2 separate regions of the Homo sapiens genome follow, and region 1 is linked to region 2. A link means that fine-mapping ties the variant in region 2 to the expression of a gene that starts in the linked region. Tissue or cell type: whole blood. Region 2 holds a variant in brackets; the other region holds the start of a gene. All regions are shown on one strand. Distances are between the middles of the regions.

Region 1 (8,107 bases), 200 kb before region 2:
ATGAACCTAGGGGGACTGAACAAAGGGGGCGGTGAATGTGAGAATAAAAGACAAGAGACAAAAGAGTATATTTGAAAGAAGGGGTCAAGGGGCACCTTGCCTCTAGTGGACAAGGGCCCTGAGCTTTACACAGCCCTCCATATTTATTAGGCAAAACAGATAGTGATAAATGGGGGGGGTGATTGTCGGGTAATTGTCAGTCAGCTGTTTGGTTCACAGCAGGCTTGCGAGACTGCATCCTTTGAACAATAGGCACTAGATTTCTCCGTAGATAACTTCAAGGAGCCCGGCACCAGGGAGCGCGGCCCTCAGCCAACCTTTTGGTGGCAGGCACAGTGTGAGTTTGCTCACATCCTGCATTCTTGATAAACAGTTTGCTGTTTGATAATATAGCCTCCAGTGGAATGCTGAGTTGGTCACAATCCCTTTGGCCTTTTCAGCTCCCAACATCTGACCTGACTGCTGGCCTCTCCTATCATCAACCTGCTCCAGCATCACTGCCTCTTTGCTCATCCTCAGCCGACCTTCCTGGGGCCTTTGCAGCTTGATTCCTCTGCCTGGAATTTCCTGCCTTCCCTAAGGCCCATAACCACTTGGGTTATTTTCTCCCTGTTCAGGTCTGTGCCTTCTCTGAACACTTGAACTCAAAACCCTGACTCTTTCACCTTCACTCTATTCATCTTCTTTGGGTTATTCTTAGTGCTTTTTCACCAATATATTTCTTATCAGTGTATCTGTGTATTGCGTTTTCCCACACTGGAATGTAGACTCTGTAGAAAGGACTTTGTTTACTGCTTTATTTTCAGTATCTAGGTCAATGCCAGGCTAATACTAGTGTAAACCAAAAATAAAATCCCAAACCCTCCATCCCCTGCTGACTGGATGGACCCCTTCTGGGCCAAGGGGACCCCAGGGAAACCTGAAAAAAAACAAAAATGGAATTATCGGCTATGACAAGAAGCAAGATGGGATGCACCTTGTTGTACCCCCTCCCTTTTGGAGTATAGGTGCAACTGGCCAGCATTAACATTAAAATAAAGATCCTAAGACTCACAAACACACTCTTTGTGGCAATAAGGTCCAAACTCCAACCTGACTGATGTAGCATCACATGACAGATAGCAGACTCTGAAGGAAATCAAGATGTTTTACCCCAAAATATATTTCTTTGAAATATTTTGAAATGGCCCTGGAAAGCCATCTTTTGTGTGGGGAATTTGCATCTGTTAAGAATCTCCGTTAATGCAGCCAGGTCTTTCCTGAATCTAGGAGAGGTTAAACAAGAGTTTAACACACCTTTTAAGATCCAAAAAGAGACATTTACCATCAATTCTTTCAGAAGGCTGCTGCCTATGAGGCTTCATCCACATAACAAGAAACTTGGTCTCCACAACCTCCCCCTTAACTCAATAATTTCCTTCTATTGACAGTCTTTAGACAAAACTTGACTCAACCAATTGCTAATCAGAAAATCTGTAAGCTCCCTGCTTCAAGATATCCCACCTTTTTAGGCTGAACAAAAGTACACCTTCCATGTGTTGATTTATGATTTTACCTATAATTCCTGTCTCCCTAAAATACATAAAACCAACCTGTAACCTGTAACTGCACTGCCTCAGGCACGCTTTCTCAGGACCTCTTGAGGCTGTTCCTGGGCCATGGTCACTCATTGGCTCAGAATAAATCTCTTTAAATATTTTAGAGTTTGGTTTTAACTTCAACACTAGGCATTTCATAAATATTTGCAGAAGGTATGACTGAATCATCTTAACTCCTTAGAGGTGGTTCCACTGTTCTCATTCTACTGTTAAGGAAGTGAGTCTTGGGGTCATTAATGAACTTTGCCTCTGGGCTGAAATTAAAAAGGCCTATGGCTGAGGAGGGTAGTGCATGCTGGTCTTTGATTCAGTCCTGCAGCATAGTCCAGTCTAGAGTTGTGTATTTGGGAAAAACACCTAGATAAACTATTCCTTACTGTAGAGATGAAAATATAATTGCCCAAGGGATTCTCCTTGTCCACTGCCCAGACAGAGCTGATTTATCAAGACAGGGGAGTTGCAATAGAGAAAGAGTTTTTTGGTTTTTTGTTTGTTTGTTTGTTTGTTTGTTTTTTGAGACAGAGTCTTGCTCTGTCGCTCAGGCTGGAGCTCAATGGCACAATCTCAGCTCATTGCAACCTCCGCCTCCAGTGTTCAAGTGATTCTCCTGCCTCAGCCTCCCAAGTAGCTGGGATTACAGGCATGTGCCACCAGGCCCAGCTAATTTTTTTTTTTTTTTTTTTGAGACAGAGTCTCACTCTGTCACCCAGGCTGGAGTGCAGTGGTGAGATCTCGGCCCACTGCAACCTCCACCTCCTGGGTTCAAGCAATTCTCCTTCCTCAGCCTCCTGAGTAGCTGGGATTACAGGCGTGTGCCACCATGTTCAGCTAATTTTTTTGTATTTTTAGTAGAGATGGGGTTTCGCTGTGTTGGCCAGGCTGGTTTTGAACTTCTGACCTCAGGTCATCCACCTTGGCCTCCCAAAGTGCTGGGATTACAGGTGTGAGCCACCATGCCCGGACAGGCTAATTTTTGCATTTTTAGTATAGATGGGGTTTCACCATGTTGGCCAGACTGGTCTCGAACTCCTGACCTCAGGTGATCCACCCGCCTCAGTCTCCCAGTGTGCTGGGATTACAGGCGTGAGCCACTGGGCCTGGCTGAGAAAGAGTTTAATTCACGCAGACCCAGCTGTACAGGAGACTGGAGTTTTATTATCGCTCAAATCAGTCTCCTAGAAAACTCCAAGATAGGGATTTTAAAGGATAATTTAGTGGGTAGGGGGTCACAAAGTGAGGGGTGCTGATTGGTTGGATGAGAGATAAAATCATAGAGAGTCAAAGCTGTCCTCTTGGGCTGAGTCAGTTCTTGGGTGGGGACCACAAGACCAGATGAGCCAGTTTATCGATCTGGGTGGTGCCAGCTGATCCCATCAAGTGCAGGGTCTACAAAATATCTCAAGCACTGGTCTTAGGTTTTATAATAGTGCTGCTATCCCTAGGAGCACTTGGGGAGGTTTTAGAATCTTGTAGCCTCCCGCTGCGAGACTCGTAAATTTCTAGTCTTGTGGCTACTCTGTTACTCCTGCAAAGGCAATCTAGTCCCCAGACAAAAAGGGTTTCGCTTTGGTAAAGGGCTAAGTATTTGTTTCAAAATTAAACTATAAACTAAGTTTCTCCCCAAGTTAATTCGCCCTAAGCCCAGGAATGAACAAGGATGGCTTGGCGGTTAGAAGCAAGATGGAGCCAGTTAGGTCAGATCTCTTTCACTGTAATAATTTTCTCTATTATAATTTTTTCAAAGGCGGTTTCAAAAAGGCAATGTTTGCTGGGTGCGGTGGCTCACGCTGTAATTCCAGCACTTTGGGAGGCCCAGGCGGACGGATCCCTTGAGCTCAAGAGTTGTCGACCAGACTGGCCAACATGGTGAAACCCTGTCTCTACTTAAAATACAAAATAGCCAGGTGTGGTGGCCTGAGCCTGTAGTCCCAGCTACTCAGAGGGCTGAGGGGGGAAAATTACCTCAGCCCGGGAAGTGGAGGCTGCAGTGAGCTGAGATGGCGCCACTGCACTCCACCTGGGTAACGGGAGTTAAGACCCTGTCTCCAAAAAAAAAAGGCAATGTCATTATTCAACATAAGCCTGAGTAGGCCATTCCCATGCCCATTCCTTAGATGACATATCTACTGTATATTTGCAAAAGATCAACATAGTTTCTAGGGTTAGCTAGAATTAATCCAAGATTGCGCCGGTTGCGGTGGCTCATGCCTGTAATCCCAGCACTTTGGGAGGCCGAGGTGGGCGGATCACGAGGTCAGGAAATTGAGACCGTCCTGGCTAACACGGTGAAACCCCGTCTATACTTAAAAAATTCAAAAAATTAGCTGGGCGTGGTGGCGGGCGCCTGTAGTCCCAGCTACTCGGGAGGCTGAGGCAGGAGAATGGCGTGAACCCGGGAGGCGGAGCTTACAGTGAGCCGAGTTCGCGCCACTGCACTCCAGCCTGGGCGACAGAGCGAGACTCCATCTCAAAAAAAAAAAAATCCAAGATTGCTTGTTAGAAATTAACATTGCTTTTTGAAAAATTGCCTAATAAAACAATTCTTTAGCAGTGATTCCCATCTTCCATATGCTTAAGAAATATTCCATAACCATCTAGCCAAGAAAATTCCTAGTGAATTCGTATTAATCTAGGGCAGATATTACAAATATTTTTAAAAGACTATTTTAAAATCAAAGGGTGGTACTGTGGTGTTGGAAATGGAAAGCCTAAATAACAGTCTAATCACTCTGGAGCTGTGTGACCTTGGGCAAGTTACCTAACTTCTGTTTCCTTATTAATCCCGGGTCTTAAAACACTTCAGAGATAATTGTGGGAATGAAATACACACTGCAGTCCCTACCAGCACTAGGTACCCAATAAAAGAGAGTTTCATTTTAATATCAAACAGAAAACCCGCACTGCAAAACTGAAACCCTTGCGTCCTACCAATGCACACCAAGTTTTTGGGCCTTTCCTCTTAACCTCAAAGTGCTCTTTTCTTGAACCTAAACGAGAATGAATGAATCAAAAGGAAAATGACAAGGAAGCTGCGGGGCGTGCATTTATTTCCAGCTCTGCTGCCCGTAGAGTCCCCCGGCCCACTGCCTGAGAACTGGAAAAGCCGTCTCTGCTCAGCCGAGGGGTTCTGCCATCTCCGGGGCGGGGACCTCACCTTGGAAAGACCCCTCCCACTCCGCCCCTCTTGGAATGCGGCTGAGCGGTGGATGTCCCTTTTCGGGCGCCGTAGGCGCGTTCCTATTGGCTAGCTTTGTTCGGCGCCAAAGCGCGGAGCGGAGGCCGAGGCGAGAGCCTGGCGCTGTAGGACTAGAACGAAAGGAGTGAGGCGCCGAGAGCCCAGATACCATTTTGGCGTGAGAGCTGGTGGTTGGCAAGGCCGCGGGAGTGGGAAGCGTCCGCCATGTTCTGCGAAAAAGCCATGGAACTGATCCGCGAGCTGCATCGCGCGCCCGAAGGGCAACTGCCTGCCTTCAACGTGAGGGGCGGGTAGACTTGGACGGGGCATGCCGGCGTTGGGCCCTGGGCTCTGGGGCGGGGCGGCTCCCCGTCAGGGTTCACTTTCGCACCTTGTTCCCTCCGAGCTCCGGAAAACTTGGGAAGCAGCAAAACAAAATTCAGGAGGAAAGAGAAAGCATTCATGCTTACGCTACCCAGCGATTTGGTGAATTTCCTCATCTGAGCAAATTTTGCATTTTAGCAGTTTTCCTTGGACAGATTTGTTCCGGTCCCTTAAAATATTTACAGGTTGCCTGATAATTTAGCATTTCTTGCTCACTCAGGCATCTAATCGTGGTCAGTAAAAGCTAGGCCTCTGGAACCTGGCTGAGATTCTGGTTCTGTAGTGTGACTTTGGGGCAGTTACTCAAGCTTTCTGTGCTCTCAGTTTTCTCATACGCAAAAATGGGGATGGTGACAATAATAGTACCCAACGCATGATGTAGTGGACGCAAAATGAGTGGCATGTGTAAGGGTCTCTGCATATGCCTCACATACAGTAAGGGCTGAGTCAGTGTTAGCTATTAATATTACTTTTCTCCTGCTGCTGCTGTTACTATTAATATTATGATTATTTGTATTTTTCTATCACTGCTACCCCAGGGAGAGTGCTAAGCACTTCATGTACATTATCTTTTGTCTTTCTAATAACCCTTTGAGGGCCCGGTACCATGGCTCCTGCCTGTAATCCCAGCACTTTGGGAGGCTGAGGCGGGAGGATCGCTTGATCCTGCCACTGCATTCCAGCCTGAGTGACAGGGAGACCCTGTCCCAAACAAAACAAAAATAACTTTTTGATGTTTAAACTATTGTTTTCTACTTTTTTCAGCTATATATGCATAGGATTGGGGAGATTTAAGTATATTGCCTAAGGTGACACAGCAAGAAAGCTAGGATTTGAACCCTGGCACTCTGGCTCCAGAGCCTGCACTCTAAATTGTATATTTCACTTACGTCATAGAGCAGGCATTATGTGGATGTCAGGACACATTCTGCTGGAAGATGGGCACAAAAACAGATAATAGAATTCACCACGCTAAGTGATACTAAGGAGGTATAGCAAGGAGCACGAAGGAGAAACACCAGTATGAGCTGGGGTAGAAGAGGTGATATATGAGCCTTTCCATCCTCAAGGATGAGGTTACTGATCTGAGAAGGAAGCGAGGCATCCCAGCCAAAGGATGCTGCAGCACAAAGTCACGTGGTCACACTGGAGAGGGTGACCAATAGGGCCTGTGGGGAGTCTAGGAAGGTGGCTCACAGCCTACATGAATTTGTTGTTCACTTATAAGGCATGCTGGGAGCTGGTAGAGGATTTTAGACAAGGAAGTGATAGGGTAATTTTTGTGTTTTGAAGGTAACTGCGGCAGCAATATGGGGAATGGATTGAAGAGAGGAAAGAATGGGACAGGGAGATGGCTACTGGGTGGCTGATAGAGCAGGTGAGAGGTGTGTGGTCTGAACTGTGTCAGGTCAGTGGCACTGAGATCAGTGTTTGGGTTTTAGAGACATGAAGCAAACATGACTTGTAGCTATTAGAGCAGGGGCAGAGATGGGGTCCATAATGAATAAGAGGGAGGAATTGGGATCTTGGAGGATCCTTAGGAAACTGGGTAAACAACATCAGAGTTCAGGAGATAGAGTGTGTTGGGAAAGGTAATGAGTTTTGTTTTGAACACTAAAGAGCACCTAGCCAGACAATTAGATTGTCTTACAAATGAAGAAACTGAGCTGACACAAATTATGGGTCAAGTTAAGGAACTCGTCTGAATTTACAGCATATTGGAGGTAGAGCTTCAACTTGAACACAGGTTTTCCAGTTTCTAGTCAATTGTTTTTTCAACTTCAGAGCAGTTACCTCATTTAAAAAGTTAGGCAGCAGTCTGCAGCTCAGTAGAGATGCTTGAATGCAGAAGTGTGTAAATGCTAAAATGTGGCCTGAGAACTAGGAACTTTAGAGGTCATTGTACATATCAGGACACAGGCCTAGAGAACAGAGAGACTGTGCAAACAGGTGCGGCCAAGCTGGATTTTGGACCTGACTCTGACACTTAGTTTAGCTCTCTGTTTTACTCAAATTTTAAGTTAAGTGTTGGGTTATCACTTTGTGGGGCTAGGGGCTGGTCTTAGAAGTTGTAGAATCAGGCCAGGAGTGGTGGCTCACGCCTGTAATCCCCCCACTTTGGGAGGCTGAGGCGGGCGGATTACAGGGTCCTGAGATTGAGACCATCCTGGCTAACATGGTGAAACCCCGTATCTACTAAAAATACAAAAAATTAGCCAGGCGTGGTGGGATGTGCCTGTAGTCCCAGCTACTCGGAAGGCTGAGGCAGGAGAATGGCTTGAATCTGGGAGGCGGAGGTTGCAGTGAGCCAAGATCGGGTCACTGCACTACAGCCTGGGCGACAGAGAGAGACTCCGCCTCAAAAAAAAAAAAAAGTTGTAGAATCACTGTCTTGTAGGTCTTAATTTGGTGGAGCACCTTTTGTCTCACTAGTGCCTTCCACTGACAAACCCACCTGATACTCAAGGTGATCCAGCAGCCTGGAACACTTAGTCAGCCTGCAGAGGCTGGCCTCCGACTCAGCGGCACAGAGGAAGGCTGACAGTGGATCTGAGAGGCCCAAGGACCACACAGGCTTTTCTCTTTTTTTTATTGTTTTGAGATGGGAGTTTCGCTCCTGTGGCCCAGGCTGGAGTGCAATGGTGTGATCTCGGCTCACTGCAACCTCCGCCTTCTGGGTTAAGCAATTCTCCTGCCTCAGCTTCCCTAGTAGCTGGGATTACAGGCGCCTGCCACCATGCCCAGATAATTTTATGTATTTTTAGTAGAGATGGGGTTTCACTATTTTGGCCGGGCTGGTCTCGAACTCCTGACCTCAGGCGATCCACCCACCTCAGCCTCCCAAAGTGCTGGGATTATAGGCGTGAGCCACCGTGCCCGGCCCAACACACAGGCTTTTCTTCTGGAATCACTCATGGTTAAGCGCTGTGTTCAGCAAACAGAAAAGTGA
Region 2 (8,107 bases):
AAAGACCCCATGTCCAGACACAGTGACATTAGGGGTTGGGGCTTCAGCACACGAGTTTTGGAGGGACACAGTTCAGTCCACTGTACCTATCCTGACCCACAGGTCCCTCCCTCTCCCTTGCCTTGCAGACCCACTTACTCTTCTGTCTCCACAGACTCCCTTTCTCTGTGACCATGGCTTTACCTCACTTGCCCTTTCAAGAGTTCACGCAACAGAAGAGGAATGTGCTGAGCGCACAGACCAGGAGCCCCGCGGTATTGCCTGCAGACCCAATTGGCTTGGCCTGGTGCCCAGGCGTCCTCTGGGTCATCCCCTCGTGGGTCTGCCACAGCCCACACCACTTCTGTGCCCTCCCCCAGCCTGTGTGGCTCGCCTACAGGCTGGCCTGGACCCTGTGGACATTCGTGAATGGCACTCCCAAACCAGAGCCTGTGAGTCCTGAATTCCCCGAAGAACCTGCCTTGCACAGTTGGGCTCAGTTGGAGGCGGCTGCCCACTCACTGGAGAAGTTCAGTCTGAGAAGAGGCCAAGGATAGGTTCTCTAAGAAGGAGGCTGGGACTTTAGAGGAATTGACTGCAGGAGAGACAACAGGCACCCCTGGCCGGCATCACACAGGACATTCCAGGCCTCTCTGTGTCTCTCTTCGTGTCTCTCTTCATCTCTCTCTGCTTCTCTGTCTCTGACTCTGTCTGCCTCTCTGCCACTGTCTCTGTCTCATCTCTTCATGATACTCTGCCTCTGTCTGTCTCTCTGCCACTGTCTCTGTCTTTCCCCGTCTCTCTGTCTCTGCCTCTGTCTCCCTGTCTGTCTCTGCCTCTGTCTCTCTGCTGCTCTGTCTCTCTCTCACCCAGGCAGGTTTTAATTCAATAAAGAAAGCATCTGTCCTTCACATAGTTCTTATTCAGTAACCACTACACACACACCCCTAACACAACACTGCTACACATACCACTGTCATACACACAATGTACACAAACACAACTGTATAACTCACATTCACCACAACCTCACTACTACACCCACTAAGCACACACACACAACCCTTCTAGACACACCCAGTGTGACATGCACACCCCCTACACACACCTCTCCACACACATACACAACCATCTCACACACACCTCTCCACGAACGTACATACATGCACACAGCCATCTCACACACACCTCTCCACACACCTACATACACACACACAACCATCTCACACAAACCTCTCCACGCACCTACATATACGCACACAACCATCTCACACACACCTCTCCACACACCTACATACACACACAACCATCTCACACCTCTCCACACACCTACATACATGCACACAACTATCTCACACACACCTCTCCACAAACCCTCCTTTGCCTTCACTATTCACACACCTCCACACTGCACATCCTGTTCCACACAGACCCACAGACACATGCACACAGGCTTCCCCACCTTCCTAAAATGCAGAGGACAGTGCTCTCTGACTCCAGGCCTATGTCCACAGCCCACTTTTGACAGTCCATCCTACCCATCCAAATTTCACTTCTCACCCCCCTACTCAGATCCCTCTCTGTGGAGATTGTAAACTCCTGGTTGCTTGGTACTCAGCTCCTGGCACTCAGGAGGAGCCCTCTATGCTTGTGTTGAACTGAATGAATTCTCTCCCTTCTTTGCCCCAATCAAATGTTTCATTTCCTTCAATCCTCAGCTTAGATTCATATCCCCAGTCAAGCCACTGCACAGTAGCTCCCTTATGAGACTTTGTTTCAGGAGGTGTTCATCTATATTGTACCGTATTCCTTCTTGTTTATGTACCAGGGTATCAAAATTGGAACTTTTTCTCCTCCAAAACAAAGGGTTGATTCAGGAATGGCAAGGAATTGCCATTCAGGCACACGTGCTCAGGCGGATCACAGGCCACACGTGCTCTGGCGGATCACAGGCCACACGTGCTCTGGCGGATCACAGGACACACGTGCTCTGGCGGATCTCACAGGACACACGTGCTCTGGCGGATCTCACAGGACACACGTGCTCTGGCGGATCACAGGACACACGTGCTCTGGCGGATCTCACAGGACACACGTGCTCTGGCGGATCACAGGACACACGTGCTCTGGCGGATCACAGGACACACGTGCTCTGGCGGATCTCACAGGACACACGTGCTCTGGCGGATCTCACAGGACACACGTGCTCTGGCGGATCACACAGGACACACGTGCTCTGGCGGATCTCACAGGACACACGTGCTCTGGCGGATCTCACAGGACACACGTGCTCTGGCGGATCACAGGACACACGTGCTCTGGCGGATCACAGGACACACGTGCTCTGGCGGATCTCACAGGACACACGTGCTCTGGCGGATCACAGGACACACGTGCTCTGGCGGATCTCACAGGACACACGTGCTCTGGCGGATCTCACAGGACACACGTGCTCTGGCGGATCTCACAGGACACACGTGCTCTGGCGGATCACAGGACACACGTGCTCTGGCGGATCACACAGGACACACGTGCTCTGGCAGATCTCACAGGCACAGCCTCAGAATGGAAACTTTGACCTAAGCCAGTAGACATCAGGCACCAGTTAGTGTGACACTTGTTGGAGGAGTTTTGAAATCAATCAGTCAACAACTCATTTCCTGACTTTTGAAGTCCCTTACCTATTTCAAGAATATTGCAGTGGAGAAACTGCAGATGGAAGAGGAAGGGAATTACAGGATTTCTTTGGAGAGAGAGCTACTGCAGCCTGTGGCTGCTGTTCTCTCAGGGGGTGAGAGAGGAACTCCTTCCTTCACCCAAACCCAGAGAATGGGACGACCCAGTGGTGAAATCCAGAGACAGGTTGGCATGCCTTTTCTGCAGAAAGCATGAAAGTTCAAGGGGCCTATGGCAGGGGTGGTAGGGGGCGTGAAGGATGTGGGTGGGATGTAACTCCATTCTCACTGATAAGGGGCAAGGACATGGGAGAGAGGCTGACCTGGGGTCCCTTCCAGAAGACAAAGGGGAGTCCAGTGGTGAGAACCAGTGGTGGAGGGGCCTGCCTGAGACCTAGGGCCAGAAGACAGCCCACTGGAGAAGCACAAGCTAAGCTGCAGCTGGAGGGGGTTTACCAGAGGTCTTTAAAGAGCCCCTGAAGCCAAGCCTAATAGCTCACGCATGTACTTCTAGCTCCTTGGGAGGCCAATACAGGAGGATCACTTGAGGCCAGGAGCTCAAGACCAGCTTGGGCAACATAGTGAGACCCCATCTC[CAA/C]AAAAAAAAAAAAAAAAAAAAAAAGGGAAATCAAGGTGTCAGCCGGGCAAAGAAAAAAACAGAAAACAAGAGCCCCTGAAAGTGCCCAATGGGAGGCAGGTTGGGGCTGGAGGCTATGGAGCTAACTCAAGACAAAACCAGGCTTTGGTGAGGAAGTCCCAAGCGAGAACTTACTTCCCTGCCCAGCGTCCCACCTCACCCCCAACTTGCAAAGAGGAGATGAGTGTGGAAGAAAGACGCCAACCATCCCACACCCCCACAGGGTGGCTGTGTCAGGCAGGCCTTGAGGGGGCAGGCAGGTGCAATTAGTTCTCCTTAGAGCAAAGCCCGAAGTGTGGCCGCCTCCACTGGGCTAAACCCTCCATGGGTCTGCACCAGGATGGTGTTTGTGACATCAAGTCATCACAGGACAATTTCCTAGGACTGAGCAGAAAAGGCTGGCGTCCACATCTCCCTTCAGTCCACTGCCAGGAGAAAACTTCCCACTCTGAGTAGATGTGAAAGGGATAGCAGGTGACCGAAAAGTTCATTTCCACTAAATTCCGTGGTTTATTTATTTATTTAGAGACAGAGTCTTGCTCTGTCGCCCAGGCTGGAGTGCAGTGGCAAGTTCTCAGCTCACTACAACCTCCGCCTCCCAGGTTCAAATGATTCTCCTGCCCCAGCCTCTCGCATAGCTAGGATTATAGGCATGTGCCACCACACCTATAATTTTGTATTTTTAGTAGAGATGAGGTTTCACCATGTTGGCCAAGCTTGTCTTGAATTCCTGATGCCAGGTGATGCACCTGCCAAAGTGCCTCCCAAAGTGCTGGGATTACAGGAGTGAGCCACTGCGCCTCATGGCATCCTTGTTCAGCACACTAGTTACACTCGTGTATCTAGTACATTGTTCTCTAGTTTTTATATCTGGTGTTCCAAATGTGACCCTCAAAATTTAAATACCTGCCACAGTATCTAATGCTGCCTGGGGAGTTCCCATGGGCAGGGGCAAGCATAGCATTTGGCAGACCAGGAGGGAGCAGGGCCGGCAGGGCCGGCAGCGCTGATCCACCATGGCAGGAACGTGTGCCAGTTGTTTCAGCAGTCTGGGCTTCGCTTTCCTCATTGCAGTGAAGGTTTTAGAAAACTGTTAAAAACACTGTGGACACTAACATTTTTAGTCAAAAAAACTCAGCCAGGTGCAGTGGCTCACGCCTGTAATCCCAGCACTTTGGGAAGCCGAGGAGGGCAGATCACTTGAGGTCAGGAGTTCGAGACCAGCCTGGCAAACATGGTGAAACCCCATCTCTGCTAAAAATACAAAATTAGCTGGGCGTGGTGGCAGGCGCCTATAATACCAGCTACTCTACTCAGGAGGCTGAGGCAGGAGAATCACTGGAACCCAGGAGGCGGAGGTTGCAATGAGCAGAGATCACACCATTGCACTCCAGACTGGGTGACAGAGCGACACTCTGTCTCAAAAAAATGAACAAACAAAAAACCTACCCACACAAAAAAACCCGTGGACGGATGCTGACCTCAGTATGTACTGAGCATCTGAGCTGTGTTCATCCTTCCCAGAGGGAGGGGTTTGCCCAGGAATTCCCAGAAACGAAACAGCTGTTTCCGGAGAAGCAGCATCAATATCTTATTTTAGTGGCATCTGTTGGACACTCAGTAAAGCACTGTCTGTGTTGTTTTCAAAGTTTATTTTATTATTTATTACATTTTTAAGCACAGATTTCAGGCTTGGGAGACGTACAAAGATGACACAGACATCCCTAATTATTAAGAACTTGGCCAGTATAAAAAGGTGGTAGACACCAAGGAATAAACTAGGGTTGTATTTCATAGAGGTGTCTATGGATGGACTTGTGGGGGGTTAAGGGGAATTTGGTGGACCCCTAAAATAATATGTAAATGTTTGGTTATGTGAATAGATTAATTTTGGGCGGAAGAAGGTCCATAACTTTTCCTAGATTTCTCGATTTAGCAGCGACTCAAATAAAAATCACTGGTATAAAATGAAGTAATGAGGGCTGGGCACGGTGGCTCACGCCTGTAATCCCAGCACTTTGGGAGGCTGAGGCGGGCGGATCATGAGGTCAAGAGATTAAGACCATCCTGGCCAACATGATGAAAGCCCATCTCTACTAAAAATACAAAAATTAGCTGGGCGTGGCGGTGCGCACCTGTAGTCCCAGCTACTCAGGAGGCTGAGGCAGGAGAATCGCTTGAACCCAGGAAGCAGAGGTTGTAGTGAGCCAATTGCACTCCAGCCTGGCGACAGAGTGAAACTCTGTCTCAAAAAAATAAAAAGAAAAAAGGAAGTAATGAGGCCAGGTTCAGTGGCTCACACTCTCACCTGTAATCCCAGAACTTTGGGAGGCTGAGGCAGGAGGATCATTTGAAGCCAGGAGTTTGAGATTAGCCTGGGCAACATTCCAAAGCCCTGTCTCTACAAAAAATACACAAATCAGCCAGAAGCAGTGGTGCACACCTGCAGTGCCAGCTTCTTGGGAGGTTGAGGTGGGAGGACACTTGAGCCAGGGAGGTCTAGGCTGCCTGGACCCATGTTCACAGCACTGCACTCCACCCTGGGTGATAGGGTGAGATTCTGTCTCAAAAAAAAAAAAAAAAAAAGTAACTGAACTGTAGAGCTAGAGCTAGTGGTTGAGTACATCAAATGTAGCAGCTGTTCTTCTAGACAAGAACATGAGCTCAGTGGTTTATTTCATTATCATGAATATCAGTGGAAACATAAATAATAAAGGATATCTCAGGATATACCAGAATGCCTCTTGCTTGTTCACTTTGAGGGAACATTTCCCTTCTTATCTTTACCTCACGTCTTGTCTCTCTTGGGACTATTCCCTGCCCAATTATGTAACCAAAGCAGTACCTACCTCATTCACAAGTGTAATAGTTTATTTGAGTAGCTCTTGCTAAAAGATATTAGAAAGCATGATGCAAACTGAGGCTTCAAAGTATTTATACGCTGGGGGTTGCCCAACTGGAATGCTCCTTATTGGAGCCCAGCCACCATGTTGAGAGGAAACCTAAGCTAGTCCCATGGAGAGGCTCTTGGACCACATGGAGAGCGGTCCGGTTGTTCCAGCCATCCCGTGTAATAATCCACGTTGACCCATGTCAACAGCCGGAATGAACTGCCAGCCATGTGAGTGAGGCCATTTTGCATAGTTCAGACAAGCCAGTACTCCAGGTGATGCCACAATAAGTGATTTTGTTGTTTTAATACACTAACTTTTGGGGTGTGTGTATTCTTTTTCAGCAATAGATTACCGAAACAATAAGTAATTGATTTTTTCTTTCTTTTTTTTTTTTTAAAGAGATGGGGGTCTCGCTATGTTGACCAGGCTGGTCTCAAACTCCTGTCCTCAAGTGATCCTCCCATCACAGCCTTCCAAAGTGCTGGGATTACAGGCATGAGCCATCATGCCTGGCCCAATAAGTAATTGATTTTCTATTGCTGTCTTCTAGTCCCTCTTCTACTGACTACAGCTACTTTTGCCATTTTTTCCGTTGTGTGATAGATGCTTTCAGCACTGTATTCAGTAAATAGCCTGTAGCATCCTTTTTAAAAAAAAAGCCCTTCCAAGTAAAGGCATATTTCAAACTGTATTAAGAATATTTTCTGGCTGGGCATGGTGGCTCATGCCTGTAATCCCAGCACTTTTGGGAGACCAAGGTGGGCAGATCCCTTGAGCTCAGGAGTTTGAGACCAGCCTGGTCAACATGGCAAAACCTCGTCTCTACAAAAAATACAAAAATTAGCCGGGCGTAATGGCGCTCACCTATGGTCCCAGCTACTCGGAAAGCTGCAGTGGAAGGATTGCTTGAGCCTGGGAGGTGAGGCGGCAGTGAGCCATGTTGTACCACTGCACCCCAGGGTGACAAAGTGAGACCTTGTCTCAAGAAAAAAAAAAAAAAAAAAAGGAACAGAACGTGAATATTTTCCATCATAATGACAGTCACTGCTGGAGTTTGTAAATGTACTCAAGAAAGATTTTCTTCATTAAATACATATGTCAAATAAATGGAGATTTGTGACCATTCCGTCAACTGTCATTTCTGTATCAGCTCAACAGTGTGGTACAGGTTATTAGCTGGTGCTTGGAAACAGGCACATTACAGGAAGTGAACTAGCATCATCACTGCAGTCCTCAACACAGAATTCCCATTCTGCTTTATCATGGTGCAAAGGACAAATCCGCATGTGAAAGGAAGGAAAAGTAAAATTTTAACAAAAACGAGTTGATGAGTTGCCCCTTGTTGTTAAAATTTGTTTAATTTTAATTAATTTTTATAGAAATAGCCAATAACTGCTTCATTCAACAGATATTCACTGAGTGCCTACCACGGGCCAGGAATATTCTTAAGTGCAAGATATAGCCATATCCTGAAAAAAAAGTGACATTGCTGTTACTGAGATGTGGAAGACAGCAGGAAGAGCAGATTTTTGAGAGAAATCCAGGAGTTTGGTTGGAAAGGAGTTATTTTGGTAATGTCTATTAGACATCTACGCAGAGATGCCAAGTGGGCTGAGGACACATATCTGAGAGTCCAAATTGGCTGATTTGCTTAACCTCTAAGCTTCAATAAAATGGTCAATATAATTCCTTTAAGCATTAAAAAATGTAATTTTAAACAGGAACTATTTTGAGTATTATTTCTTTAATTGTCTGGTGGTTAAAACCATTTTATCTTTTGTGACTTTTTAAAAAATTTTACTTTTTTTTACTTTTTGGGTTTAAGCGATCCTCCCGTCTCAGCTTCCCAAAGTGCTGAGATGACAGGTGTGAGCCATCATGCCTGGCTATCTTCCATGACTTTTAAAATCTGAGTATTGGCC

The links. PIP is the estimated chance that this variant, and not a neighbour inherited with it, causes the effect.
Region 1: GINS1 starts here. The variant in region 2 is fine-mapped to the expression of GINS1 in whole blood (INTERVAL, PIP 0.98).

Annotation. Positions count from the first base shown.
Region 1 is chr20:25,402,823-25,410,929 of GRCh38, forward strand. It overlaps GINS1 (GINS complex subunit 1), which reads left to right and starts at 4,851. Exons shown (of 7, transcript NM_021067.5): 1 at 4,851-5,073. The coding sequence starts at 4,999. LOC105372581 (a long non-coding RNA gene) reads right to left here and starts at 5,473. Exons shown (of 3, transcript XR_937403.3): 1 at 5,249-5,473; 2 at 1-15. RefSeq lists enhancers at 4,893-5,142, 5,240-5,997.
Region 2 is chr20:25,600,525-25,608,631 of GRCh38, forward strand. No RefSeq gene overlaps it. Among named protein-coding and RNA genes, the nearest start is that of NINL, 19 kb to the left of the region's middle. RefSeq lists an enhancer at 1,556-2,755. The variant CAA/C (reference allele first, on the strand shown) is at 3,251.